Linked DNA regions of Homo sapiens: regions 1 and 2 are each linked to region 3. The links come from fine-mapping of genetic effects on gene expression. A gene starts in region 3. Each other region holds a variant in brackets. All regions are shown on one strand. Distances are from middle to middle.

The links.
Region 1: its variant is fine-mapped to the expression of AGTPBP1 in whole blood (INTERVAL, PIP above 0.99).
Region 2: its variant is fine-mapped to the expression of AGTPBP1 in whole blood (TOPMed, PIP above 0.99). The same link has a PIP of 0.9 or more in blood mononuclear cells and monocytes.

What each region holds. Positions count from the first base shown.
Region 1 is chr9:85,759,038-85,769,473 of GRCh38, reverse strand. It overlaps a transcript of AGTPBP1 not described here and the pseudogene LOC100419824. Among named protein-coding and RNA genes, the nearest start is that of AGTPBP1, 22 kb to the right of the region's middle. The variant A/G (reference allele first, on the strand shown) is at 4,975.
Region 2 is chr9:85,711,000-85,721,435 of GRCh38, reverse strand. It overlaps AGTPBP1 (ATP/GTP binding carboxypeptidase 1), which reads left to right. Exons shown (of 26, transcript NM_001330701.2): 2 at 8,870-8,934. The coding sequence starts at 8,903. Among named protein-coding and RNA genes, the nearest start is that of AGTPBP1, 26 kb to the left of the region's middle. The variant C/T (reference allele first, on the strand shown) is at 5,700.
Region 3 is chr9:85,736,995-85,747,430 of GRCh38, reverse strand. AGTPBP1 (ATP/GTP binding carboxypeptidase 1) reads left to right here and starts at 5,477. Exons shown (of 26, transcript NM_001330701.2): 1 at 5,477-5,656. RefSeq lists silencers at 5,154-5,753, 5,824-6,143 and an enhancer at 6,314-6,463.

The DNA of each region.
Region 1 (10,436 bases), 22 kb before region 3:
GCCCAAGCAAACCTCCTACCTTGCCCTCCTGAGTAGCTGGGACTACAGGCACACGCCACCATGCCCAGCTCTTCCAGTTCTTTGAACTATCCAAATACATGTTATGTTGGTGATACAAATCTATGGTAAGGAATTACTTCAGATTGGTGAGATTTGGATATATGTTTCCGTATACCCATACCTATCGTGGAGGCCACCTCGATAAGTTCCTGTGGCAGACTATCTTGTCCATCTGCACACCCTTATTGCCTAGCACAGTACCTATCACATAGTTTGAACTCAATATCTGTTGACTTAATGAAGAAAGAAGAGAAAAAAATTTCATGTGTCCTTGGTTACAGGACCCATGTTATTTCTCTCCACTCCTTCCCCTAAAATCCCAAAGGAAAATAATGTGAATATTTCTTTTTTTTTTTTTTTTTTGACAGGGCCTCACTCACTTTGTCATCCAGGCTGGAGTGCAGTGGTGGGATCTCAGCTCACTGCAACCTCCACCTCTTGGGTTTAAGCAATTCTCCTGCCTCAGCCTCCCAAGTAACTGGGATTACAGGTGCATGCCACCACGCCTAGCTAATTTTTGTATTTTTAGTTGAGAAGGGGTTTTGCAACATTGGCCAGGCTGGTCTTGGAACTCCTGACTTCAGGTGATCTCCCTGCCTCAGCCTCCCAAAGTGATGGGATTACAGGTGTGAGCCACCATGCCTGGCCAATAATGTGAATATTTCTGATCTACCTAAAGAAAAATGTTCACCAGCCATTCTATTTCTCTGTGCAATCACTAACCATATGGAATTTGATGGTTTGATAATTGCTCCATAAGGAATAAAATAATATTCACCTTTACAAGAAAAAACCCCTTAAATACTAAAATGTACTTAGGTGAACGAATAAGAGGAGCCACAAATAAAAGTGAATTATCCAATATAGAGTAAGTCCTTATCATCAATAGGTTCTTGGAAACTGTGACTTTAAGAGAAACAATACATAACGAAACAAATTTTTTTTCTTATTAACTTTGTAACAAAAGCAACTATGTTGAAGGAAAACAATGTAATTTGAGGACCTGATGTACATGGTGTCTCTTAAAGTCACAATTTCCAAGAACCTATCCACAGTGTTCAGTGAGGACTTTACTGTACTTGACTTTTGAATTTATACTGTGACTATATTTTATCAAAAACAAATGTGAAGAGTTTGCCTTTATACGTGGCTGAGGACAATTTCGTATAAATTCAGTTTCTATGGTTTTAGATCTAAGTTAAGGAAGTACTGAGATAATATAAGGTAGTGTGAATATAGAAACCCAAGGACAGCCCGCTCCAGTGAGGCTGCAGCATATCAGTGTTTGCAGTTCCCTCTAACTCAGCAATAGGTGTAGGTTGACAAGATACGTGGCAATGGGTAACTATCCTGGGATGAAAAATTTGCCACAATACAAACCACAGGTTATCAAGAGTTGACTCTGCTTTATGATAGAGCACTGCTTTTCAACTTTAATGTGTACCCAGGAGCTCACTAGAATTCAGATTCTGATCCAGCAGGTCCACTTGGGGCCTGAGGATCTGCATTTCTAACAAGCCTCCAAGTGATGCTGTTGCTGCTGGTCCAGAGACCAAGTAAAATGAAACAAAAAACTAACAACAACTTTTGAGCAAGCACTGCAGAGATTTCCCTATAAATTATATGTTCTCAGCAGGGTGCGGTGGCTCAAGGCCTGTAAACCCAGCACTTTGGGAGGCTGAGGTGGGTGGATCACTTGAGGTCAGGAGTTCGAGACCAGCCTGACCAACATGGCGAGACCTCGTCTCTACTAAAAATACAAAAATTAGGCTGGGCGCGGTGGCTTACGCCTGTAATCCCAGCACTTTGGGAGGCCGAGGTGGGTGGATCACGAGGTCAGGAGATCGAGACCATCTTGGCCAACATGGTGAAACCCCATCTCTACTAAAATACAAAAAACTAGCCAAGCATGATGGCGTGTGCCTGCAGTGCCAGCTACTCGAGTGGCTGAGGCAGGGAAATCGCTTGAACCAGGCAGGCGGAGGTTGTAGTGAGCTGAGATCGCGCCACTGCACTCCAGCCTGGTGACAGAGCAAGACTCAGTCTCAAAAAAAAAAAAAAAAAATTAGCTGGGCATGGTAGTGCACATCTGTAATCCCAGCTACTCAGGAGGCTGAGGCAGGAGAATTGCTTGAACCCAGGAGACGGAGGCAGTGAGCCGAGATCGCACCACTGCACTCCAGCCTGAGTGACAGACTGAGACTCCATCTCAAAAAAAAAAAAAAAAAAAAAAGTATGTTCTCATCATAAAATGAGAAATTAAAAGTTTAAAAGATTAGAGAAACATAATAGTTCTTATATTTTCCTCCCTACCTATTAAGCAACTACTCTGTATTATTAGAAATCTAAAGTTCAGGTATTCTTTAATTTTAGTTTCTGGATTTTACCAAAAAAAAAAAAAAAAGCGGTGTGACCTGTCTGTAGTAAATTGTTAGGTAATCTTCTATTAGTGTAACGATCTAAAATCTTTCTATCCATTTCCTTAAAGTAATAAAATTAGGAAAAATATTTTAATTTACTGTGGAAAGAGAAAATTATCCTAAACAAGTTTAAAGACATTAAGATAGCAAACCATTCCAACTAGATTTTATTGATACCTTGTGTCACATCAGAATCTCATGTTCTCGATCATCTGCTAGTGACAGATCTATTTGGAATATTAACCTTGGCTTTAAAATCGTGATAAGAGCAGAGCCTCACTTGAGAGGTACACTAAGAAGAACCAACCATGTGGAAGAAAGGTGCATAGAAGCTCATGTGAGTAAGTAGAACTCTACCAGTTGTAGGAGGCTCATCATTCCCTCAAACCCCAGTCCAGAATAGCCGCAAAATAGGTATCATGCACCATACTATATTTTCACCACAAATCTGTAAATAACGTTTTTTGTTATGGGATCCCACATGAAATAGAAACCTAAATGTTTCTTGATATTAATGGAACTCTACCCTACTGCAAACATAATTTGTTAATTCTCATCTCTGTGCCTTATTCAAAGATGTTCTGTCTAAAACGGACTTCTTTCTTGTATCTGCCAGTGCATATCATGTTTTTCATAATCTAGCTCAAGATTCTGATCTACTGAGGCTGCCTTGATGAATCTTCCCCCAAATGATCACTTCATTGCTTTGAATAAATAATGTAAGAGGTATAGCTGTAATACGTTATCCACAACTTGATTTTCAGTGTCCTTCAGAGTTTACAGTTTTCTTATATTTCTATCTGTTTTCCCAAATAGAGTATTAATTTCTCAAGGGAAACATAATACTTTGGGTTTTTTTTTTTTTGGCTTCTTCTATCTTCTATAGAGCTTAGTAATAGTCACAGGCAGGCAGAATTCCTTAAATATTTGAATTCTGCTGTATCTTAGGCTCTCATGTCTTCAAATCTATAACCCTTGGGCTCCAATTTAACACCTTGGGAGGACACCCTGGCTCTCTGTTCCTCTGCACAGCTACCCAGCTTAAGTTATAAAACGGCAACAGAGGGCTATAATGTTCCTTTCAACCGCCATTTAGCCCCCAATCAAGGATTGATTTGTAAGTCAATCCTTTCATCAATTCTCAATGAGCAACAATCTAATGTTATCCTTGCTCCTATTTCTTAACTAGCCCTCATAACTTCCTGTCACTTGCTCCAAACTAAAACACTACAAGATTCACCACTGTGTATGATTCTCAGCTATTCACCTTCTCTTAGCAATTTTCCCTTGGTTTGGTAATGATGAGACACCAACAATAAATATTTGCAGAGGAAGTTCAGATTCAAAAATTCATCTTTCTCTGATGAAGTAAGGTAAAGGTACCACTGCCAACTGACTGAAAATTTTGAAAAAAGACAAAGTCTGGGGCAATTTGACAGCCCATAAATGAATCATCTTCTACATAGTTTTAAAAAACTATAACTAAAACTATAGTTTTAAAAAAACTGTAACTAAAACTATAGTTTTAAAAAAACTGTAACTATAACTAAAAGGTCTTTTACTGGGATTGGAATTTTGTGCATCTATTTGGCTGGACATAGTATGGACATTGGGCCTTTTAAACCAAGGTTTCATGGAAAGAATTAACCCCTAATTCCTTAGGCATCTCTTGTATGTAATAAATTACCTAGTATCCTTCAAGAAATATATATAGAGAAAAGTCAGGTGCCCTCCAGTAGAGTCCCTCAAATCATTTTCTATGTTCTGTGATTTCAGACGAGAAACCCCAGCTGAGAAGGCAAATATACTCAAGGAAATTAATAGTTTCCAAATGCCTGGCAGTGCCAGGAAGAGGCCATGTCCATGGACCACTATGTAAGGATATCTCAGTCTCTAGTCAAGCGTGGTTTATGGTGCCAAATAAGTGCCAGGTGAACTCACTACATCTGACAAAATCTCAAGGAACCAAGTTTACCAGATAATATTTATGATTATGTGAAAAAGACTGAGGAAATCACTCAAGTGATCCATCATACAGCACCTCCAGTTCCAAAGAATACTGACTTACTTCAGGTGATAACACTCTACCATTTTTAAGTTTTTCATCTTAAAAATGTGTCTTCGTTTCTGGAGCTGATCCTTTTCTTTCTGGAGGACTTCAACTTGCTCTGAAATCTTTGTTTTCTCCTCAGCTGTACTGGTCTGGAGCTGCACATTCTTTTCAGAGAAGTCTTGTTCCATTAAGTTCAGGCGAGTTGATACTTTCAAACTATCTGTGTTTAAGGCCTAAAAGATACAACCCACCAGACACCCCGAAAACAGTTACTAGAAATCTAGACTGCATAAAAATTAGGAAAAACATAGAGAAAATTGCTAAATGAATATATTTTTAGTTTTTACATTATTGTTTTCTCCCATGGATTTTTTTGAGGGAGGGGGTATTCATTTTCTTTTTTTGTTTTTGACATGGAGTTTTGCTCTTGTTCCCCAGGCT[A/G]GAGTGCAATGGTGCAACCTCAGCTCACTGCAACCTTCGCTTCCCAGGTTCAAGCGATTCTCCTGCTTCAGCCTCCCTGGTTGCTGGGATTACAGGCGCTCATCACCATGTGCAGCTAATTTTTTGTATTTTTACTAGAGATGGGGTTTTATCATGTTGGCCAGGCTGGTCTCGAACTCCTGACCTCAGGTGATCCACCCGCCTCAGCCCCCCAAAGTTCTGAGATTACAGACGTGAGACACCCACCCGACCGGGGTGTTCATTTTCTAAAATCTTAAGTTGAATGCCTTTTTAAAAAAAAAAAGTCTATTTAAACTCTGAGTTTACTGCCAAGAATTGCCTTGACTAGGTTTTCAGAGGCAGTATTTTTCTTTTTTCTTATTTTCTAAATTGAACTTTTCTTTCTTGGCTTACATTCTACATTGTAGAATTATGTTACAATTTACTAGGGGTTGAGATGTGGTGTGTTTAAACATACGATTGGTTGGCTTAAACATATAATTTGTTTTTACTCGTATTTCATTCTGATCAGAAAATATGGCCAGATTTATGGAGATGTTCACTATGGTCAAATTTCAGGTAATTTGTAAAATACTTTTCACAGTAATTATTTGTATATACTACCATGAGGTTTATTATAGAGACACATACTATCATAAGGTTTATAATTTTAAAAAAGCATTCCCCTCCCCCAAGCTTTTAATTGAATCCTACTCCCAGACGGCCACCTTCAACCTTTTCAGTTGGTTCTTCTGGTGTTTATGTCCATGTTTCTAAATGGCATTATCAATTTTAGACATTGTCTACTGACTGTGTATTATGGGAGATAAGGATTTAGCACTCTTATACCTACTCTACTTCCCATCCTCCTCCATTCTCCCAATATAAGTTACATTATAGTTTTTAGTTAAATCAATATTCATTTTCATTATTATAACTTTGTTATTCATAGGTGAACTATCTAGTATGAAATGATCATGCTTCTGTTTTGATACAACTTTTTTTTGCACCTTATACTAATTCTTCTCCAACAGAACTATAAAATTCCTCAACACTTTTTCATTTGATCAAACTTATCAGGAAATCTTTTCAATCTATTCTTTTCTGGAAACATTTTGCCTGGAGCATCCATCCTCCTGCTCCACACTGGACCAGTTGTCCTGGGTCTTCCCTTTGGTATTTCCTGAGAATTTCCATGTTGGAGCACATTTTCAGAATCCTGAGTCTTCCTTTTTCATAGTTGGTGCCCTTATTTTTGTGGGGCACATTCTCTAGTAGTTTCTCTGGACAGGCTTGATGTGAGGGTTTTTTTTTGTTTGTTTTTTGTTTTTTTGCCTGAAAATGCTTATTCTAGCTTCACATTTGATTGAGAGTTTGGCTAAGAAGAAAATTATTTATTAGACTTAATTTTCCTCATGAGTTTAAAGATTGCTTCAGATCTTAAACTTCTAATGAGGAAAGCTGAGAAGTCCAATGCCATTCTGATTCTTGCAACTTACAAGTAGTCTTTTTTGTCTAGATGCTTTCAGGACCTTCTTTTTTCCTCAGTCAGTGTATCCAAACCTTCACAGTGATATGTTTTGGGTACTCATTTTGCTGGGCCCTTGATGGGCTATTTCTTTCTATATATATGTATAAACTTTATATACATAAACTTTATAAAGTTTATATATATATAAAGTTTTACATATATATAAAGTTTTATATATATAAAGTTTTATATATATATATATAACTTTAAGTTCTAGGGTACATGTGCACAATGTGCAGGTTTGTTACATATGTATACATGTGCCATGTTGGTGTGCTGCACCCATTAACTCGTCATTTACATTAGGTATATCTCCTAATGCTATCGCTGCCCCCTCCCCACACCCCACAACAGGCCCCAGTGTGTGATGTTCCCCTTCCTGTGTCCAAGTGTTCGCATTGTTCAATTCGCACCTATGAGTGAGAACATGCAGTGTTTGGATTTTTGTCCTTGCAATACTTTGCTGAGAATGATGGTTTCCAGCTTCATCCATGTCCCTACAAAGGACATGAACTCATCATTTTTTATGCCTGCATAGTATTCCATGGTGTATATGTACCACATTTTCTTAATCCAGTCTATCATTGTTGGACATTTGGGTTGGTTCCAAGTCTTTGCTATTGTGAATAGTGCCGCAATAAACATATGTGTGCATGTGTCTTTATAGCAGCATGATTTATAATCCTTTGGGTATATACCCAGTAATGGGATGGCTGGGTCAAATGGTATTTCTAGTTCTAGATCCTTGAGGAATCGCCACACTGTCTTCCACAATGGTTGAACTAGTTTACAGTCCCACCAACAGTGTAAAAGTGTTCCTATTTCTCCACATCCTCTCCAGCACCTGTTGTTTCCTGACTTTTTAATGATCGCCATTCTAACTGGTGTGAGATGGTATCTCATTGTGGTTTTGATTTGCATTTCTCTGACGACCAGTGATGATGAGCATTTTTTCATGTGTCTGTTGGCTGCATAAATGTCTTCTTTTGAGAAGCTTCTGTTCATATCCTTCACCCACTTGTTGATGGGGTTGTTTTTTTCTTGTAAATTTGTTTGAGTTCATTGTAGATTCTGGATATTAGCCCTTTGTCAGATGAGTAGATTGCAAAAATTTTCTCCCATTTTGTAGTTTGCCTGCTCACTCTGACGGTAGTTTCTTTTGCTGTGCAGAAGCTCTTTAGTTTAATTAGATCCCATTTGTCAATTTTGGCTTTTGTTGCCATTGCTTTTGGTGTTTTAGACATGAAGTCCTTGCCCATGCCTATGTTCTGAATGGTATTGCCTAGGTTTTCTTCTAGGGTTTTTATGGTTTTAGGTCTAACATTTAAGTCTTTAATCCAGCTGGAATTAATTTTTGTATAAGATGTAAGGAAGGGATCCAGTTTCAGCTTTCTACATATGGCTAGCCAGTTTTCCCAGCACCATTTGTTAAATAGAGAATCCTTTCCCCATTTCTCGTTTTTGTCAGGTTTGTCAAAGATCAGAGAGTTGTAGATGTGTGGTATTATTTCTGAGGGCTCTGCTCTGTTCCATTGGTCTATATCTCTGTTTTGGTACCAGTACCATGCTGTTTTGGTTACTGTAGCCTTGTAGTATAGTTTGAAGTCAGGTAGCGTGATGCCTCCAGCTTTGTTCTTTTGGCTTAGGATTGTCTTGGCAATGTGGGCTCTTTCTTGGTTCCACATGAACTTTAAAGTAGTTTTTTCCAATTCTGTGAAGAAAGTCATTGGTAGCTTGATGGGGATGGCATTGAATCTATAAATTACCTTGGGCAGTATGGCCATTTTCACAATATTGATTCTTCCTACCCATGAGTATGGAATGTTCTTCCATTTGTTTTTGTCCTCTTTTATGTTGCTGAGCAGTGGTCTGTAGTTCTCCTTGAAGAGGTCCTTCACATCCCTTCTAAGTTGGATTCCTAGGTATGGTATTTTATTCTCTTTGAAGCAATTGTGAATGGGAGTTCACTCATGATTTGGCTCTCTGTTTGTCTGTTATTGGTGTATAAGAATGCTTGTGATTTTTGCACACTGATTTTGTATCCTGAGACTTTGCTGAAGTTGCTTATCAGCTTAAGGAGATTTTGGGCTGAGACGATGGGGTTTTCTAGATATACAATCATGTCATCTGCAAACAGACAATTTGACTTCCTCTTTTCCTAACTGAATACCCTTTATTTCTTTCTCCTGCCTGATTGCCCTGGCCAGAACTTTCAACACTATGTTGAATAGGAGTGGTGAGAGAGGGCATCCCTGTCTTGTGCCAGTTTTCAAAGGGAATGCTTCCAGTTTTTGCCCATTCAGTACGATATTGGCTGTGGGTTTGTCATAAATAGCTCTTATTATTTTGAGATATGTCCCCTCAATACCTAATTTATTGAGAGTTTTTAGCATGAAGGGCTGTTGAATTTTGTCAAAGGCCTTTTCTGCATCTATTGAGACAATCATGTGGTTTTTGTCTTTGGTTCTGTTTATATGCTTGATTACATTTATTGATTTGCGTATGTTGAACCAGCCTTGCATCCCAGGGATGAAGCCCACATGATCATGGTGGATAAGCTTTTTGATGTGCTGCTGGATTTGGTTTGCCAATATTTTATTGAGGATTTTTGCATCGATGTTCATCAAGGATATTGGTCTAAAATTCTCTTTTTTTGTTGTGTCTCTGCCAGGCTTTGGTATCAGGATGATGCTGGCCTCATAAAATGAGTTAGGGAGGATTCCCTCTTTTTCTATTGATTGGAATAGTTTCAGAAGGAATGGTACCAGCTCCTCCTTGTACCTCTGGTAGAATTCGGCTGTGAATCCGTCTGATCCTGGACTTTTTTCGGTTGGTAAGCTACTAATTATTGCCTCAATTTCAGAGCCTGTCATTGGTCTATTCAGAGATTCAACTTCCTCCTGGTTTAGTCTTGGGAGGGTGTACGTGTCCAGGAATTTATCCATTTCTTCTAGATTTTCTAGTTTATTTGCGTAGAGGTGTTTATAGTATTCTCTGATGGTAGTTTGTATTTCTGTGGGATCGGTGGTGATATCCCCTTTATCATTTTTTATTGCATCTATTTGATTCTTCTCTCTTTTCTTCTTTATTAGTCTTGCCAGCGGTCTGTCAGTTTTGTTGATCTCAAAAAACCAGCTCCTTGATTCACTGATTTTTTGAAGGGTTTTCTGTGTCTCTATCTCCTTCAGTTCTGCTCTGATCTTAGTTATTTCTTGCCTTCTGCTAGCTTTTGAATGTGTTTGCTCTTGCTTCTCTAGTTCTTTTAATTGTGATGTTAGGCTGTTAATTTTAGATCTTTCCTGCTTTCTCTTGTGGGCATTTAGTGCTGTAAATTTCCCTCTACACACTGCTTTAAATGTGTCCCAGAGATTCTGGTATGTTGTGTCTTTGTTCTCGTTGGTTTCAAAGAACATCTTTATTTCTGCCTTCATTTCGTTATGTACCCAGTAGTCATTCAGGAGCAGGTTGTTCAGTTTCCATGTAGTTGAGCGGTTTTGAGTGAGTTTCTTAATCCTGAGTTCTAGTTTGATTGCACTGTGGTCTGAGAGACAGTTTGTTATAATTTCTGTTCTTTTACATTTGCTGAGGAGTGCTTTACTTCCAACTATGTGGTCAATTTTGGAATAAGTGTGATGTGGTGCTGAGAAGAATGTATATTGTGTTGATGTGGGGTGGAAAGTTCTGTAGATGTCTATTAGGTCTGCTTGGTGCAGAGCTGAGTTCAATTTCTGGATATCCTTGTTAAATTTCTGTCTCATGGATCTGTCTAATATTGACAGTGGGGTGTTAAAGTCTCCCATTATTATTGTGTGGGAGTCTAAGTCTCTTTGTAGGTCTCTAAGGACTTGCTTTATGAATCTGAGTGCCCCTGTATTGGGTGCATATACATTTAGGATAGTTAGCTCTTCTTGTTGAATTGATCCCTTTACCA
Region 2 (10,436 bases), 26 kb after region 3:
AAAGAGACCAAGAAGGCCATTACATGATGGCAAAGGGATCAATTCAACAAGAAGAGCTAACTATCCTAAATATATATGCACCCAATACAGGAGTACCCAGATTCATAAAGCAAGTCCTTAGAGACCAACAAAGAGACTTAGACTCCCACACAATAATAATGGGAGACTTTAACACCCCACTGTAAATATTAGATCAATGAGACAGAAGGTTAACAAGGATATCCAGGACTTGAACTCAGCTCTGGACCAAGTGGACCTAATAGACATCTACAGAACTCTCTATCCCAAATCAACGGAATATACATTCTTTTCAGCACCTCATTGCACTTATTTTAAAATTGACCACATAATTGGAAGTAAAACACTCCTCAGCAAATGCAGAAGAGCAGAAATCACAACAAACTATCTCTCAGACCACAGTGCAATCAAACTAGAACTCAGGATTAAGAAACTCACTCAAAACTGCACAACTACATGGAAACTGAACAACCTGCTCCTGAATGACTACTGGGTACATAACGGAATGAAGGCAGAGAGATAAAGACGTTCTTTGAAACCAATGAGAACAAAGACACAACGTACCAGAATCTCTGGGACACATTTAAAGCAGTGTGTAGAGAAAAATTTACAACACTAAATGCCCACAAGAGAAAGCAGGAAAGATCTAAAATCGACGCCCTAACATCACAATTAAAAGGACTAGAGAAGCAACAGCAAACAAATTGAAAAGCTAGCAGAAGGCAAGAAATAACTAAGATTAGAGCAGAACTGAAGGAGAGAGAGAGAGACACAAAAAATCCCTTAAAAAAATCAATGAATCCAGGAGCTGGTTTTTTGAAAAAAATCAACAAAATAGACCACTAGCAAGACTAATAAGGAAGAAATGAGAGAAGAATCAAATAGATGCAATAACAAATGATAAAGGGGATATCACCACTGATACCACAGAAATACAAGCTACCATCAGAGAATACTATAAATAGTTCTATGCAAATAAACTAGAAAATCTAGAAGAAATGGATAAATTCCTGGACACATACACCCTCCCAAGACTAAACCAGGAAGAAGTTGAATCTCTGAATAGACCAATAACAGGTTCTGAAATTGAGGCAACAATTAATGGCCTACCAACTAAAAAAAATCCGGGACCAGACGGATTCACAGCCAAATTCTACCAGAGGTACAAAGAGGAGCTGGTACCATTCCTTCTGAAACTGTTCCAATCAATAGAAAAAGAGGGAATCCTCCCTAACTCATTTTATGAGGCCAGCGTCATCCTGATACTAAAGGCTGGCAGAGACACAACAATAAAAGAGAATTTTAGACCAATATCCCTGATGAACATCGATGCAAAAATCCTCAATAAAATACTGGCAAACTGAATCCAGCAGCACAAGAAAAAGCTTATCCACCACAATCAAGTTGGCTTCATCCCTGGGATGCAAGGCTGGTTCAACATACGCAAATCAATAAACATAATCCATCACATAAACAGAACCAATGACAAAAACCACATGATTATCTCAATAGATGTAGAAAAGGCCTTTGACAAAATTCAACAGCCTTTCATGTTACAAACTGTCAATAAACTAGGTATTGATGGAATGTATCTCAAAATAATAAGAGCTATTTATGACAGACCCACAGCCAATATCATACTGGATGGGCAAAAACTGGAAGCATTCCCTTTGAAAACTGGCACAAGACAAGGATGCCCTCTCTCACCACTCCTATTCAACATAGTGTTGAAAGTTCTGGCCAGGGCAATCAGGCAAGAGAAAGAAATAGTGGGTATTCAGTTAGGAAAAGAGGAAGTCAAATTGCCCCTGTTTGCAGATGACATGATTGTATATTTAGAAAACCCCATTGTCTGAGCCCCTAATCTCTTTAAGCTGATAAGCAACTTCAGCAAAGTCTCAGGATACAAAATCAGTGTGCAAAAATCACAAGCATTCCTATACACCAATTACAGACAGAGCCAAATCATGAGTGACCTCCCATTCACAATTGCTTCAAAGAGAATAAAATACCTAGGAATCCAACATACAAGGGTTGTGAAGGACCTCTTCAAGGAGAACTACAAACCACTGCTCAACAACATAAAAGAGGACAAAAACAAATGGAAGAACATTCCATGCTTATGGATAGGAAGAATCAATATTGTGAAAATGGCCATACTGCCCAAGGTAATTTATAGATTCAGTGCCATCCCCATCAAGCTACCGATGACTTTCTTCACAGAATTGGAAAAAACTACTCTAAAGTTCATATGGAACCAAAAAGCCCGCATAGCCAAGACAATCCTAAGCCAAAAGAACAAAGCTGGAGGCATCACACTACCTGACTTCAAACTATACTGCAAGGCTACAGTAACTAAAACAGCATGGTACTGGTACCAAAACAGGGATATAGACCAATGGAACAGAACAGAGGCCTCAGATATAACACCATACATCTGCAACCATCTGATCTTTGACAAACCTGACAAAAACAAGCAATGGGGAAAGGATTCCCTATTTAATAAATGGTGTTGGGAAAACTGGCGAGCCATATGTAGAAAGCTGAAACTGGATCCCTTCCTTACCCCTTATACAAAAATTAACTCACGATGGTTTAAAGACTTAAGTGTAAGACCTAAAACCATAAAAACCTAGAAGAAAACCTAGTCAATACCATTGAGGACATAGGCATGGGCAAACATTTCATGACTAAAACACCAAAAGCAATGGCAACAAAAGCCAAAATTGACAAATGGGATCTAATTAAACTAAAGAGCATCTGCACAGCAAAAGAAACTGTAATCAGAGTGAACAGGCAACCTACAGAATGGGAGAAAATTTTTGCAATCTACCTATCTGACAAAGGGCTAATATTCAGAATCTACAAAGAACTTAAACATATTTACCAGAAAAAACCAAACAACCCCATCAAAAAGTGGGCAAAGGATATGAACATATACTTCTCAAAAGAAGACATTTATCCAGTCAACAGACACATGAAAAAATGCTCGTTATCACTGGTCATCAGAGAAATGCAAATCAAAACCACAATGAGATACCATCTCATACCAGTTAGAATAGCGATCATTAAAAAGTCAGGAAACAACAGATACTGGAGAGGATGTGGAGAAATAGGAACACTTACACTGTTGGTGGGAGTGTAAATTAGTTCAACCATTGTGGAAGACAGTGTGGCAATTCCTCAAGGATCTAGAACTAGAACTAGAACCCAGTGATCCCATTACTGGGTATATACTCAGAGTATAAATCATGCTGCTATAAAGACACATGCATACGTATGTTTATTATGGCACCATTCACAATAGCAAAGACTTGGAACCAACCCATATGTCTATCAGTGATAGACTGGATTAAGAAAATGTGGCACAGGTACACCATGGAATACTATGCAGCCATAAAAAATGATGAGTTCATGTCCTTTGCAGGGACGTGGATGAAGCTGGAAACCATCATTCTCAGCAAACTATCACAAGGACAGAAAACCAAACACTGCATGTTCTCATTCATAAGTGGGAGTTGAACAATGAGAACACATGGACACAGGGCGGGGAACATCACACTCCACGGCCTGTTAGGGGGTGGGGGGCTGTGGGAGGGATAGCATTAGGAGAAATACCTAATGTAAATGACGAGTTGATGGGTGTGGCAAACCAACATGGCAATGTATACCTATGGAACAAACCTGCACGTTGTGCACATGTACCCTAGAACTTAAAGTATATTAAAAAAAAAAAAAAAAGGATACTCATCCCATTCATGAAGCCTCCACCCTTATGACCTAATTATCTCCAAAAGGCCCTAACTTCTCATATTGTCACTTGGGGGTTAGCTTTTCAACATAAGGATTTTGGGAGGCACACGAACATTCAGACCATAGCAAAAATGTTCAGTTATTTTTATTTTATTTATTTTTTGAGACAGCGTCTTGCTCTGTCACCCAGGCTGAAGCGCAGTGGTGTGAACACAGCTCACTGCAGCATTAACCTCCCGTGCTCAAGTGGTTGTCACACCTCAGTTTCCTGAGTAGCTGGGACTACGGGTGTATGCCACCATACCTAGTTAATTTTTTTATTTTTTAGAGAAGGGCTCTTGCTATATTGCCCAGGCTGGTCTTGAACTCCTGGGCTCAAGCAGTCCTCCCACCTGGGCCTCCCAAAGTGTTGGGATTGCAGGCGTGAGTCACTGCACCCAGCCTGTTCAGTTATTTTTGAATCATCATGTTTTAGAAGGCAGTAAGTGCTTTGGAAGAAGACAAAGTAGATTCCGGCAAGGGCAATGGGTATGCTAGGGTCTGGAGGTAGTTTGCAATATTAAATAGGTTGGTTGGGATGGGTTGTATTGAAAAGGTGATACTTGAGCAATGGAAGTGGTGGAGTTAGTTATTGGGATATCTGGCAGAAGCACATTCCAGGCAAAAGAAACAGCTTATGCAAAGGCACTAAAGTGAGAGCCTGGCATGTTGGAGGAAAACATGGAGGCCCAGCCAGTGCATCCAGAGCAGAGTGACTGAGAAAAGTTGTAGGTAGGATATGAAGACAGGGAGGTAAGGACTGGGGGTATTCCTCTAGGGTCTTTTATGTCATTGAAATTGGCAGCCGCACAGGGCTTTGAGCAGAGTAGTGACAAAAATCTACTTAAGGTGTTTTTTCCTTCTTCTGTCCCCCAGTGTATTAAAAGGATCACTAAGCATGTTGTGTTGAGAATAGACTGTAGGGGGCATCAGAGGTAGAAGGGAGACTAGTGACATTGTTTACTTGACCGTGGTAGATGTGGTAAAGTGATCAGATTCTGGATATATTTTAAAAGTAGAATTATCAAGACTTTCTGATGTATTGGATGTGGGACAGGAGACAAGGATGAAGCTAAGGTTTTGAATTGAGCAACTGGAGGCATAGAATTGTCTTTAACTTAGATGGGAAAGCCAGAGTAGAGCACACTTGGAAGGGAAGGTCAGATCCGTTTTGCATATGTCGAGTTGGTAATATTATTAGAGATTCAAGTGGAAATGTTGAGTAATTACAAGACTAGATGAGATCACCAAGGAAGAGACTGTAGTTAGAAGAGGACAAGAAAGGACTAAGCCCTGGGCATTCCGTTAAAGGAAACTTAGAAGTGGTCAGTGAGGTTGGGAGAAAGCAAAGTATATAGCCAAATGAAGAAAGCATTTCCAAGAAGAGGATGTGGTCAGCTGTATCAAATGCTGCTGATAGGACAAATAAGATGAGGACTGAGAATTGACAATTGGATTTAGTAACATGGGGATCATTAGTTGTTGATAAGAATGGTGTTGGTGGAGTGGGGTGGGGAAAGTCTCATTGGAATGTGTTTAAGAGAGGATTGGAAGGGAGGACTTGTTGACAGTGTGCATAAACAAGTCTTTGCTTTCAGAAGGAGAGAAATGGGACAGTAGCTGAATTGGGAGCGAGAAAGTTTTTTTCCTAAGACACAGAAATATCATGATTTTATGGTGATGAAAATGATTCAGTAAAGAGGAAAGAGGAGATTATACCTAAATTTCGAGCTCAGTTTTTATCACTTTTTTTCATACATTCTCAGTTCCTCTGCCCTCTTGCTTTATCACACTTGCTTGGCAAAGCCACAAACTTGGTGAAATGCAACACTTCTGCTTCTAGGTGCCTGCACTTTCTGTTACACCATATTGTAATCAACACAAGCTTT[C/T]GCAAGATTTTTCATTATGTTCTGGCTTCAGGCTTCAGTAATAAAAAGTGAACTGTAAGGGATACACTGGCCTACTTTAGGATAACAGGGTTGAGAACTGACCTTTTTCCTGGGGGACTCTTAAGCCTAGAAAGCAGAATTCTTTGAGGTTGTCTGTTCCTTTAGTGAAGATTATTTGCCAGGGGTTAGATGCTTGATACTGCTGAGCATGTTCCACAGTGGTAGGGCATGGAGATATGGAGGAGGTAAGAAGTTACTATTTGCAGTTCCAAAGTTTTAGTTAGCCCTGTTTTGTAGTCTTCCTCTGTCGTCCTTGTTTCTGAGTGCTAGGTTCCTAGTTTCCTGAGTTCTTCTTAGCATAATACCTGTTCCTTCTTCCCTCTTAGTTTTCCTTTTTGTCACTAGGTTTAAACATAACCAACCTTCCTTCTTTCCTCCCTCCCTTCTTCAGAATTCTTGTTTGCTTTATTTCTTTTTTTCTTTTTTTTTTTGAGACAGAGTCTCGCTCTGTCACCCGGGCTGGAGTGCAGTGGTGCGATCTCAGCTCACAGCAACCTCCGCCTCCCAGTTCAAGTGATTCTCCTGCCTCAGCCTCCTGAGTAGCTGGGATTACAGGCTTGCACCACCAGGCCAGGCTAATTTTTGTATTTTTGATAGAGATGGAGTTTCACCATGTTTACTAGGCTGGTCCTGAACTCCCAACCTCGGGTCATCCGCCCGCCTTGGCCTCCCGAAGTGCTGGGATTACAGGTGTGAGCTACTGTGCCCGGCCCTTTATTTTTGATAAGCTGCTATTATAAGCTCCTGTTAGAAGTTTTTTAGGCATTACACCACGTTGTCTTGATATTCTGATCATATATACACACATATATATTCATTTTTTCAAGAGATGTTTAACAGATATATACCATATATTGAATTTTTGCCATCAAATATTCTTAAATATGTTATCTTGCAGCATATCACTTTCAAGTTAAAATGCCAGAAACAATACCAATATCTATAATTATTTTAAGGAATGCTATATAATGACACATTAAGGTGTAGATTCTTTTGATTTGTAATTCTTAGAATGATAATAGCAAAAATGATGCAAAAAATCTTCAGTGTGAGATTATGATGAAGCTACATTTTACAATTGTCTTTTTCAACCATAATGAAAATGGTCTTGGTGTCTAGCTGCAGACAGATTTACTCATTCTAGAGCTGCAGGCAGATTTACTCCTTCTAGCTCATTACACACAGGATACATGACTGCATAGAAGGGCATATAAAACGTGGAAATGGCCTCAGCTTCATTCTTCATCTCTTCCATTGTTATCCTCATTCAAACACCAATTACAGTAGAAAAAGCAGTGCTAAAATGCACTTCATTCACTGCAGTATTCTCCTTTTTTGCGTGATTAAAGGATAAGGCACAAAACACACACTGGCAACTGAGGCACTGACTTCACTTCCCACCTATGGACCCTCTTCAGCTCCTGGATCTGTTCACTTTGGTAACGCCAGAGGACTTGAGAGGAACCAACTTTATTTCTTTACTTTTACTGTAATCTAGTCCCAAGAGTAAGAGGAGAGAAATGCCTGTGGTTTATTTTACTGTGAACTGCAAGTTCAAATCATTTCTTATCTGTTGAAATACAGTTGGCTATGATATTAGTGCTCACCATTATTCTTTTCAACTCTATCAACTCTAGTAAAATCCACAGGGAACTTTTCATGAGATGTGCTGTTAGTGTATTAATAGTTTCTTCTGTTTGTGGCAGCAACAGTGCTTTTGAAATCACGTAAGATTTTTTTCTCCCTGTGGATATATAGTGATTTTTACTTAATTTAGAAATAGAAAAAAGTTACTTTGATTTTGTAGTTGTGTCTTAAAAAAGAGTAAAAAAAATTACAATTTAAAATTTCTCATTGACTTTAAAAACAATTCATGTAATTTTTGTACACAATTCTAAATATTTCCTTTTCTTAGTTAAGGAAAATGAAAAAAAATTATGTATGTCGTGTTGAAAAGTTCTGTTATTGAAGACAAACATCCAGAATATCTTCTACTTCATCAGAGTATCTTCCAAATGTATTAAGTTAAACAATTTGAAGTTTGCCCTTTTTGTGTGTTTGTTGTCTCTTTAAATATGACATTACTAAATATTTCATAAGTATGTGATTAACTGGTTTTTTGTTTGTTTGTTTGTTTGTTTTTTTGAGATGGAGTTTCGCTCTTGTCGCCTAGGCTGGAGTACAATGGTACGATCTTGGCTCACTGCAACCTCCACCTCCCGGGTTCAAGTGATTCTCCTGTCTCAGCCTCCTGAGTAGCTGGGATTACAGGCACCTGCCACCACACCCAGCTAATTTTTGTATTTTTAGTAGAGATGGGGTTTCACCATGTTGGCCAGGCTGGTGTCAAACTCCTGTCCTCAGGTGATCCACCTGCCTTGGCCCCCCAAAGTGCTGGGATAACAGGCATGAGCCACCATGCCCAGCCATGATTAACTTTTTGAATTCACAGTAGTTATTCTACTTTTTGGTGATGCCAAAAAATTCTGCTACAGTAAGCATTGGTATTTAAAAGATATTTAGAGTATTTTAGGGTTAATAGTTGCAAAATAAACTTGAAGATTTATAAAAATTGTGTGAATCGAGATTTAAGGTTGTTTAAACATATATAATGTCTAAAAATGAAAACTATTGTTTGAGGGAAGATGTGCATAGAAGCTTTTACTAATTTGAAAATGTTCTTATATGGAAATAACACATATTGACTAGTATTTGACTACTGTGTGAATGGTGTACAGTAAGTGCACTAATCACAGGATGCTGTGATTGGTTTATGTATTTTAAGGAGGAGTATTAGAACAGAAAGCATAATTTGAACTGTCTCAAAAGATCTTAACATTAGGTTGCAAATGACATTATGTTAGGTTTCTGCGTTTTTGTAGCTCCGGATTTTGATAAGTTTCCTGGCTGATTATAGGTATTTTTATAGTCATACATTGCATTCTGAAGCGACCCAGTAGAAGCACATAGAACTCAAATGTTCTCTTTTTGTTTCCGGTGTTATCTTGTGTTGCCCATAATGAAAACTTTCCATTGTATGGCTTCTGTGATATCTAATATATAGAAAAAAGAGTTATAAGTTTTTAATATCATTAACATTTTTCTTTTAGATTATCTGCAATTATGAAATGAAGTAACTCAAGATGAGCAAGTTAAAAGTGATACCAGAAAAAAGGTACTGTAATTCTGAATATCAGTATGCATAAGTTACAGAAATAATGTATGACAGAATTACTTGAAACTCAATACTTGACAAAGTATTATTTGTGTTTAAGTATAATATGTTATATTTATGTAATTAAAAATGTTTATTAATGTTTAACTTTTCAGTTAAAATTGGAATCAGCAAACTATGACCACCTCCTGTTTTTGTGTGGCCTGTGAGCTCAGAATGGTTTTTACTTTTTTTTTTGAGACGGAATTTCACTCTCGTTGCCCAGGCTAGAGTGCAGTGGCACGATCTCGGCTCACTACAACCTCTGCCTCTGGGTTCAAGTGATTCTCCTGCCTCAGCCTCTGGAGTAGCTGGGATTACAGGCACCCACCACCACACCCGGCTGATTTTTTGTACTTTTAGTAGAGACGGGGTTTCACTATGTTGTCCAGGCTGGTCTCGAACTCCTGACCTCAGGTGATCCACCCGCCTTGGCCTCCCAAAGTGCTGGGATTATAGGTGTGAACCTCCATGCCCGGCCGGTTTTTACATTTTTAAATGGTTAAAAAAATAGTATTTTGTGATACATGAACATTATATGTAATTTGCATTTCAGCATCTATAAATAAAGTGTTTTTTTGGAACACAGCCATGCTAATTCATTTACATATTGTCTGTGGCCACTTTTCTATTAAAATGGTGAATTCGAGTAGTTATGACAGGGACTGCATGGCCCACAATGCCTAAAATATATACTATTTGGCCCTTTACAGAAAAAGTTTAGGCTGGGCGCAGTGGCTTACGCCTGTAATCTCAGCACTTTGGGAGGTCGAGGCGGGTGGGTCATCTGAGGTCAGGAGTTCGAGACCAGTCTGGCCAACATGGTGAAACCCTGTCTTTATAAAAAATACAAAAATTAGCCAGGTGTGGTGGTAGGCGCCTGTAGTCCCAGCTACTCTGGAGGCTGAGGCTGGAGAATCGCTTGAACCCGAGAGTCAGAGGTTGCAGTGAGCCCAGATCTCGCCACTGCACTCCAGCCTGGGCAACACAGTGAGACTCTGTCTCAAAAAAAAAAAAAAAAGAAAGAAAAAAGATAAAGTTTAACTGATTGCTGAGTTAAAGCACACTGTATCATCTCTGTTAAAGTTCTTAAATATCAAGAAATTGTCTTAATGTTGGTTTTATTTCTTTCAGTTGAAAGACAATTCTGATTGTATATTGAAATTGTCTTGGCTATACAGTGATGAGCAAATTGTGTAACTTTGTGAAGCCTCAGTTTTCTCATCTGAACAATTACTTTAATGATAATGCTGTTATTATAAGGCTGTGAAGATTAAATGGTATTTGGCTTGGTAATTGACAGTGTATTAATACTGGTAATGAAAGTTTCTGCTTTGTAGCAATGTTCTTATGTTTACGTGTATATAACTTTACATTCATTGGTATGCGTTAAATCTGTTATATAATGAATAGTATACACACTGTTTAGATAAGATTTATTCCTTAAATTGCTAGGTTTTGCA
Region 3 (10,436 bases):
ATCAAAATTCCAATGGCCTTTTTTGCAGAAATGGAAAAGCCCATCCTCAAATTCACATGGAAAATTATAGGGGCCCTGAATAGCCAAAATCATCTTGAAAAAGAAGAGCAAGGTGGGAGAACTTACTTCCTGATTTCAAGACTTAATATAATCCTACAATAATCAAAATAGTGTGATACTAGCATGAGGATAGACATATAGACCTATGGAATAGAACTGAGAGTTTAGTAACCATATATCTGTGGCCAGTTGATTTTTTAAAAATAAAAATTGGGGCCAAGCATGGTGGCTCAGGCCTGTAATCCCAATACTTTGGGAGGCCAAGACCAGAGGATCACTTGAAGCCAGGAGTTCAAGATCAGCCTGGGAAATATAGCAAGACACTGTCTATAAAAAGTAGAAAAAAAAAATTAGCCAGGTGTGGTGGTATGCGTCTGTCGTCCCAGCTGCTTAGGAGGCTAAGGCAGGGGGATCACTTGAGCCCAGGAATTGGAGGCTGCAGTGGGCTATGATCATGCCACCGCACTTCCAGAGTGAGACCCTGTCTCAAAAAAAACAAAATTGTACATATGTAAGGTATACAACATGATGTTTTGATATACATAGTGAAATGATTACTATAGTCAAGCTAACATATTTATCTCTTCACATAGTTAGCATTTTGGTTTTTTTTTTGTGGTAAGAGTACCTGAAATCCACTCTCTTAGCAAATTTCCAGTATACAATAGTCATCATGCTGTACACTAAGTCTCTACTCAATTTTGCTTCTCTCTCTCTCTCCCCCCACTCTTTCTTTTTGTTAGAGGCAGAATCTTGCTCTGTTGCCCAGTCTGGTGTGCAGTGGTGTGATTACGGTTTACTGTAGCCTTGAACTCCTGGGCTCAAGCTATCCTCCTGCCTCAGCCTCCCAAGTAGCTAGGACTACAGGCATGCACCACCACGCTCAGGTAATTTTAATTTTAATTTTTGTAGAGATGTGGGGGGTCTCACTATGTTGTCCAGGCTGGTCTTGAACTCCTGGCTCCAATGATATGCCTATGCTGTCTGGGGTATATACCCTGTGGTTTGTTTTGTGTGCCAAGAAAGAATTTAGGACACAGACACATGTGGGTGGGTTAAGTAGTGGAAAGTTGATAGTTAGAAGAAAGGAGAGAGGCAGCTTTTTGGGAAAGAGAGATGTCCACAGAGGGGGTGAGGCAGTGGATCGCAGCAGATTTTATAGGCAGCAGGTTGGAGAAGGCGGTGTCTGATTTATATGGGGCTCACAGATTGGTTCCATCAGGTATGACGTCTATATACTGTGTGGGGGCAGGGGGAAAAGGAAGGCTGGTCGCCCCACCCTAATCTTATTCTGCAAATGGGCTTTCCTGTTGATCTGCACCATGTTGTCTGCTTCTTACTGTAAACGTGGCTGACAAAGAGAAGGGAAGTGGAGCTGCCATCCTGAACATGTCTAGCCCCGAGTTTCTGCTGGCATTCACCAGTGCAAGCTCCCAGATTGCTTGTCTATGTCTGGAGCTCGAGCTTACAGGCTGCTCTTTGTTAGAAAATGATTTGGGGCTGCTTTTCATTAAAGAGAAAAGCCTTACCAAAGGCTGCCATACTCTCACTGTCTGCCTAAGTGATTTCTTCTTAACTCCTATATCACCAATTGATCCTCCTGCTTTGGCCTCCCAAAATGCTGGGATTACAGGCATGAGCCACCACACCTGGCCTTTAAGTTCAATTTTTCTGACCCCGAATTATATATCATTCACAGTTTACCATGGAAACCATTTGCCACTGTAAAAGATTTTGCATCAGAACCATTCAATGTGTGAAATCCCAGATTGCTTCCCTCCATTTCCCAGTTTTGCCGCATTCATTTAGATTCAGCTCTGGTCGTTTGTACTACATTCTGTTCTGTGGTCTATTTGTGGTAAACCTTTTAGTTTGACACAAGGCAGTGGTTAGGTATTTTGTTGAGCATTATCATTTGCTTAATTCCTCAGAAGATCTCAAGAGGACTGTCTGGTACATAAGAGGTGCTCAATAAATGGTTGATTGTTGAATAGTTATAACAATCAATCCTCTAACTCCAGAGGACCAGCTATGTTTCAGAAACCTCATGATCAATCATGCTCTCCTAACATTTATGTTCTAGATGGAAATTGCTGTAGACTTTTTGAGAGGTCCATGGCTGTTCTAAGCCTTATGACTATAGAGTTTTGTAATACAGTGTGTTGCATTTTGTACGTTACCTTATTAAAAGCATGGAGATAAGGTGATCCGCAGAAGAGGAGAAAGAGATAGCTGGGCTCCAATGTTCACCTCTCTCTCCCCATGACTAGTCCAAAAATGAAACAGGAAAACATTTACTGAGTACCTACAAGGCTGGACTGAATAGAGGAATCCAAGTTAAATGAATTCCATTATATAGTCCAACTCTGATCTATATCAGCCATTCACATTTAGTTTTATATATCATAATAAGGTTTATTGAAGAAGCTGTGGAAAGAGTGACCAATAGAAATTAGCTCTGTGTTTTGTATGGTTCAAAGTAGAGAGATAAAAGTATGATTTCATGAATCACATTGAAAGGCGTCAGCCAGCTTGCTTTAGGCAGATAGTAAGCAAAGGGTCCCCAGAGAAGCTCCCACCCATGTTTCGTACAGATAAGGGAACTTACACAGGGGTCTTGCCTAAACATGCCTACAGTGGACTAAGGGCCCGCGTGCACACTGGGGGAATGGGGTGGAGCCACCAGGAATTTGCGCCTTACACAAATAGGGAACCTGGCCCCATCAGCTTGCATGTAAAAGCCCCTGCATTCAACTGTGAAGCGGGCAACTGGGAACCTGCTTTCAGGATCCTTCTCTTTGCTGAGAGCTTTCCTTTTGCTTAACAAATTCTACTTCACTCACTCTTCAAGTGTCCGTGTACCTGATTTTTCCTGGTCTTGAGACAAGAACCTGGATCTAGCTGAGCTAAGGAGGAAACAATCCTGGATCAACATGGTTTATTGCCATGTGAAGATAATTTATTTTCTTAGGTTCACAATGTATAGAGGCAGAGAATTAAGAGAATAATTTCACAGGGAATACACTCCATAGATGATGTTTATTAACTACATAGTGAGTGAGTTCCAAAACTATTAAAACCTAGTTGTTCAATTAAGATTGAAGCAGACCTCTGTGGAAAGTAAAGTCTGATTAAGGATTGAGGTGGGTGTGGTATTAATGCCTGTAATCTCAGCATTTTGGGAGGCTAAGGCAGGAGGACTGCTGAGCCCAGGAGTTTGAGACCAGCCTGGGTGACTTAGGGAGACCCCGACTCTACAAAAACAATTAAAAAAATTAGCCAGGTGTGGTGACGTGTGCCTGTAGTCCCAGATACTCAGTGGGAGGCTGAGGTAGTACGATTCATTAAGCCTGGGAGGTCAAGGCTGCAGTGAGCCATGATTGCACTACTGTATTACAGCCTTGGCAACAGAGTGAGAGTCTTGTCTCAAAAAAAAAAAAAAAAGAAAGAAAAAGAAAAAGAAAAAGAAAAACAACTGAGGTGTACCTTTACCTTTTGGAGGCTGAGGTTCTCGGGAGAGATGGTGTCCAACATACAGGAGATCGGTGAGGATATGCAAGGTCCCACGATGCTAGAGGGCTGTGCCAGTGTTGGTGGACAGGCTTCAAAGCTTAAAGGCTAACAGGGTGTGGCCCTGTTGCAGCCTGAGCTGGTAGCGTTCAGGGAAGTGGCTGACAGAGCACGCGATCTGCCACCCGCTGAGCTCTCAAAGTATCTTGCAAATTCTTGAGTTTATATGTATTTCGAAATCCTGTAGTTGAGGTCAGTAACATATATATGGTGTTTGATAAGGTGTAACGTCACATTAGCTAGGAGAGGTGAAGTTTATTTCAACTTCATACACGTGGGATCTGATGAAGAGTGATGTCACATTCCCAGGGGGTGGGGGAGTAGCTCTAAGTTCTTAATTACCGCAAAACATAAATCACTCACTCTTGTGGCAAACTATGTGATTGGAATCATTTCAAAGCTATGTAATGCTGCTATTTATCTTGTGTGGGTTAATCTCCTGGGTCTGTGTTGTGGTCATCAAACTATGCTAACAGTGCTTGTGAAAGTGGGATTCAAATTCCACAAACACACACATCCACATAATATCTTCCTATATTGCAGGTTGACTCATTTAGAAACATGTTCTTTAAGAAAAGTTTCAGGTATATTACATACATATTTAGCATTATTGTAAAATTATTACATTATTATTGGGTATTTTCAGATAATACGTTTCTGATTGGGTGGTTTGGGGTGGTGGTTGTTTCAAAATTATTTTAAATACCGTAACCTATCTTTTAGTGCTCACGATGAGGGAAACTACGATGTTTATAAAATGGCAGTTTCTTGTTCATCTGAATAAAGACATCTACCAAGGGCAAACTGTAAGAAGCACTGTGGTGTACCTTGGGTTACTTTTTGAATTGCTTTCACACCTGCTTAATTTTATTTGAACAAGATCATAAAACAAAACAAAAATCTCACAGTTCTCAATGCATTCCCTTATCTAGTTGTGATATTACATTCCTTACCATAAACAGTAGCAAACATGTTCTTGTGCAACGTGAAAAAGTAAATGATGTCAGTATTTATTTGCAATACATTGCAGTACACTGAAGTACAGTCAAAACAGAAGGGGGTGTATTAGTAATTTCTCTGACACATTACTTTGGCTCAGATAAAACATTCCGCCTTTGCCTTCAGTAGCCAACTTAGCATTACCGTTTTGATTATATGCAGGCACTTTTTCAAAAAACAGTAAATCAGCATGCTATTTTGTTCGCTGCAGCACTAGGCATCTAATTTACTGAGATTTGGCCACAAGGTGCAATCCTGTTGTTTTCTGGGAGCCCGATTGTAGTAACAGCATGTCCCTTCCAGCCTCTTATTATGGACCCTCCTTGAGGTCAGGAAAGGTCTAAGCTTTACCGCAGTCCCCAGCGTTTGATGCGACCCCGGGATCACGTGGGGAGCTTTAAGAACCCTTCCTAAGAAAGTGACTGATTGATGGCGGGGGAGGGGGTGGGCGCGGGCTTAGTTCCGGGAAAAGGCTGGGGCCCTCGTTGGGAGTGTACAGAAAGATGACTTGAAGAACGTGGGGAGTCGCTCGCAGTTCGGTACGGAGGGGCGGTGGCCGGGGCTGCTGGGTACAAGGGACCGGCAGCGCGCGGAACACCCGCCCCTAATTCCCGCTCCCGTGCGCGCTCCGCCCCCACGCGCGCGCTCCCTCCCGTCAGGCGCGCAGAGAGGCGGGGCGCAGCGCGCACGGAGGTAACAAGGGACGCGGCGGGAAGAGGGCGTGCGCTCCGCCCCGCCCCTTTCGCGGCCTCGCACGCCCCGCCCCCACTCCCTGCGCGTGCTGGGAGCCGGCTGGCAAGGCGTGCGGTGGGCGGGGCGCCGCGCTGACGTTGCCCGGGATGCGGACAGGTTCCGCCGCCTCCAGCGCCGCCGCCGCAGCTGCCGCCGCCGCCGCCTCCGCCTCGCCTGCCACCGGGGTTTGTATGAAAACACCGGGCGGCGGGCGGCGAGGGATCCGCCGTGATCCAGGTGCTGAGCCGGGTGCTGCGGCTCTGCGCGGTCCCCGCCAGCGCCCCATCCTGAGCCGGTGAGCGCCCTGCTGCAGTCCTCATGTCCCGGCCGGCCGTCCCTCTGCTCTCCCCGGGCCGCGGGAGATGCGAGCGACGGCGCCCGGGGGTAGGAGGGGCGACCCCGGATCCCTGCGCCCCTTACCTGACGGGTTGTGTAACGCATGTTACACATGTGACGCGTGAGGGGAACGCACTCGGTCTTGAGGGAAAGCCCTGACGGGGTGGGGCTTTGACTGGGTCTGGAAAACGCCTTCCCCAGTCCCCGGACCCTCGGTGGATCCCCGTCCCAGACCTTGCGGAGGGTATCGGGCGCGGTCTCTGGGCGGAGGCCGCCCTTTCTGCTCAGCCCTTTCTCTCGGGCCCGAGCTCGCGGCGCCGCGGGGAGTCCAGCCGAGGGGCTGCAGGGCCGGGGGCGGGCGCGCCCAGCCCCGCTCTCCCCCGCCCCAGTGGTAGCGGGCCGCTGAATCGCGGGCCCCTGTGCTTCGAGAATTCTAGCGTTCCCGACTGAGCGCCAGCAAGGTGGGATTTGCTGTGACATCGGCGATGGGCACGTTTGCTTCCTCTCGCTGGGTGGTTTGAGCTGAAGTGTGTCTTCTGTTTACAACTTGTCGCCTTGAGCGTTTGGTTTGAACCTGAATCAGATCACCCTGGATGACAGTGCAGAGTTTCCTTAGTGTCTTCCTTCCTGAATTGCGGGTTCTCAATTGCAAGTGTTCAAGGACTGTTGTAACCCAAAGGCTTGCTCGACTCTACCGTTGTTTTACCCCTTGTGCGGTATAAACCTCTTACGAGCACCAGGGCAATTGGAGTTGGTTGGGTTCCTTTCTTGGGCGTTTACTCATTGTAGAATGGAGTTTTCATGCATCATAGTGTAATCGATGTGAATGTTGATAATTTAAAGCCCATTTCCCGTTTTAACATAGCTTACTCAAGTGCCTGAAGATAGCGGAAATTTTCTTTGGCAGTATTAATTCTATGTGGGTTTTTTCCTTCAGGTGTTTAACATTGTAGTTGTGTTTAATTACAATGCATGACAATTTGTAGTTAGAAAGGACCTTAACAGTCTTCTTAATCGGTCATTTTCACTTACCTTTTATGTCCGTTTTTTAAGCTTTATGTAAATCAAATTATCCTTTGTGAACTTCTGAATTATTCTTATAAACTGGTTGTCTGAGAAAACCGGAAAGTTATTTTTGTAATTGTATTGTGGAATGTTTTTAGTTCAGTAGGCCAAAAAAGAAATGATTTATTTAAGGAACTTTAAATGGTGCTTATTTTAAAACATGTGCCAAATGTCAAAACCAAACAAAACTCTGAAAGATCTGTATTTCCTATGTAGAATTACTGCGAAATAATAAGTCGTGCCTTACCCACTGTTTCTCATCATGCAGGCAGAGTTCTAATATGACTTGCTCTTTTTCCCATTCCACTTCTCTTAAGTTAAATTCTATGGTGAAGTTACAGGTTCATTTTTAATGATCACAAAACTCTGCCTTGAATTGATTAATCACATAATTACAACTGCAGACTCACTCTGAACTCGGAAATGAAGTGGATAGGCTTAAAACTACCCTCGTATTTGGCCAACATTGCAAAGCATTTAAATCTATTAATTAAACTTTTGTAGAAGCAATTTTTATAAAGCTTTTCCGAATTGAGGCATTCTTCTCTTTAGAAAAGTCTGGCTAGGCTGCTATATAATAATGGTTTTACTTCCATTAGCAGAAGGAAAAGAGGTCCAACAGTTATGAAATTTTGTAATTTGTATTTTACTTTTTTTTTTTTTTTGAGACGGAGTCTCACTCTCTCGCCCAGGCTAGAGTGCCAGTGGTGCGATCTCGGCTCACTGCAACCTGCCCCTACCGGGTTCAAGCGATTCTCCCGCCTCAGCTTCTTGATTATAGGCGCGCGTCACCACGCCTAGCTAATTTTTGTGTTTTTAGTAGAGACGGGTTTCACCATGTTGGCCAGGCTGGTATCGAACTCCCAACCTCAGGTGATCCACTAGCCTCAGCTTCTTAAGGTGCAGGGATTACAGGCGTGAGCCACCAAGCTTGGCCTGAATTTTTTTTTTTTTTTTTTTGAGACGGAGTTTCGCTCTTGTCGCCCAGGCTGGAGTGCAGTGGCACGATCTTGGCTCACTACAGCCTCTGCCTCCCGGGTTCAAGCGATTCTCCTGCCTCAGCCTCCCGAATAGCTGGGATTACAGGAGCACACCACCACGCCCGGCTAAGTTTTTGTTTTTAGTAGAGACGGGGTTTCACCATGTTACCCAAGCTCGTCTTGAACTCCTGACCTCAGGTGGTCTGCCCACCTCGGCCTCCCAAAGTCCTGGGATTACAGGCGTCCGCCACCACGCCCGTCCTGGCCTGAATTTTTTTAAACCTCATCCAAAGTATTCATCTTCCCAAATCTGCTTTTCTTGCTTGAAGTCCCCCACTATCTGAAAGTTGAACAGTGCGTGAATAGCAATGGATGCACCTGTCAGAGGGCCATCTGCAAGATGGGAGCTTTCCTTAGGCAATGGGTTTCAGTATAAACAACATAAATTTTGTAGGGTGGGCACTGAATTTTAAACTTCAGATGTTATTGTTGATTACTGTGCCTGTGTACTATGGTGTAGTGGCTAAGGAGTTGGGCCTCAGAGCCAGATGGCTCGGTTTGGGTCCTGGCTTTGCTTTAGGCAAGTTATTTTTATTTTTATTTTTTTAAGACAAGTTATTTGTCCTTTTTGTACTTTAATTTTCTCAGCTCCAAAAATGACATAATATTAGTGTATACTCTTAAGATATTCTCAAATATTAAGTGATTAATACAAGTAAAGTGCTTAGCCCACAGTGCCTGGCATGTAGTAAGTGCCCAGTAAATATTGCTATTATTACCGTTGCTCTTCCTCAGTCTTCAAAGGGATCTAGTAAGCAGAAAAAGGACTTTTGGGGGATGGAGCAGTATTAGTGCAGATTAATTCCACTATGACCCATTTGCTCCTTTGGGGTTAAATGAGAGCTTAGTCTCACTGTCCTGCCTCCTGCCTTGGAAACATGTAAGTCAGTTTTAAATAGAACAGCTAGACCCTGAGCTGGGTGCCCTGGGATGCTACTGGAGAGCTGTTGATAAATCCGTTTGTCCCTTCTGACAGAACCTTGGATTGTCTCCCTCCTGTTGGTGATGGCTGCTATTTTAATCTTTTAATCATCTGTTTTTGAGTTTGTGATTGGGTGTTTCTTTGACTATAATGTGCCGCTATCAAAAATGTGATCTGTCAAAATATTGGTAGGTATGTACTTGTTTATTTGATCAGAATATTGTATGTTGTTTCCAGGGCACACAAAATCAATTTTTTTAAGCATTCTTTTTTATCTAAGCATTTTCTTTTTTATTGATATTATATAGTGTGAAATCAGTTTTGATTTGACATTGTGTTCATTTTCAGCTTTCATATAATTTTCCTAGGAACTTTTTTTTTCCCTCCAGTATGATTTTACATACTTGTTCTTGGTTTGCAGGGATCTAATATTAAAACTCTAAATGCTTTCAAACTTTTGGTTAGGACCCTTTTACATTGTTAAAAGTTGTTGAGGATCCCCAAAAAGCTTTTGTGAATTTATCTATGTTTACTGTATTGTAAATGAAAAGGGAAATATAAATTGTCAGTTCACTTAAAATGACAATTATAAACTCTTTACATGTTAATATAAACACCCTATTTTTAATGAAAACAACTTTTTTTTAAAACAAAAAATAAGGTAGTGAGAAAAGTGGCATTGTTTTACTTTTTTTGTAAATCTGTCTGGTTTAATGGAAACAGCTGGATTATCATATCTGCTCCTGCATCCAGTCTATTGCAATATGTTGTTTGGGTTGAAATACATATGGAGAAAATCCAGTCTCACATAGTTAATGGCTAAACAGGGTGGGGAGGCCGGGGAGGGAGCATTTTAATAGCCTTTTCCGATAATTGTGGACATTCTTGTTTGGTATTATATTAAAACTCAGTAAGTGGCAATTTCTTAAAGGTTAGATGCCGTGAGAAATCCAGTAAGTGGATTTTTGCATGCTCTAGTAAAACCCATTGGTTGGAACTTTGAATGGGTCTTATACTCATTCCTGAGATTGTAACATCATTCCTTGGTCATTTGTAAATATTGGTTCAGTGTTATGCAGATCTTCCAAATGTTGACATCTTTCATCATGCAATATTAAAGAAAGTTATGGTTGTTAATATCACCACCCATTTTGTTAGAGACAAATTATTGGGAAGCTGTTTAGGTCTTGACATGACAATGGTGGATATGAGTTTTCCAGAATTCGGATTTTTGCTTGAAAGCTCAAATTTTATCATTGGCAACAAATGTGACTTGTTTACTTAAAGTGACAAGCTCAGTTTATTCATTTCTGAGAAAACCTCTGCCAAAATATTCCAATTTGAGTAACCATAGTCTGTCAATCATTCTTTCAGTCACTTTCATTAAAAAAGAGGCTAGTTCAAGCTGTCAATTCAGTTACAGAAGCACTTTACTTTGAGACAGCCATCAACTATTGTAATTCAGTATGTAGCAGAAATGGTTCATGGAAAGTTCCCATTTTGTCACATAAAAAGGTGCATAAAAATTAATAATTTTTACTGTTTCAAGGACATTCTTAAGTGACATTGGCTTTTTCTTGTCTTTTTATTTTTTATTTTTTGAGATGGAGTCTTGCTCTGTCGCCCAGGCTGGAGTGCAGTGGTGCAATCTCTGCTCACTGCAAGCTCCGCTTACTGGCTTAACGCCATTCTCCTGCCTCAGCCTCCCGAGT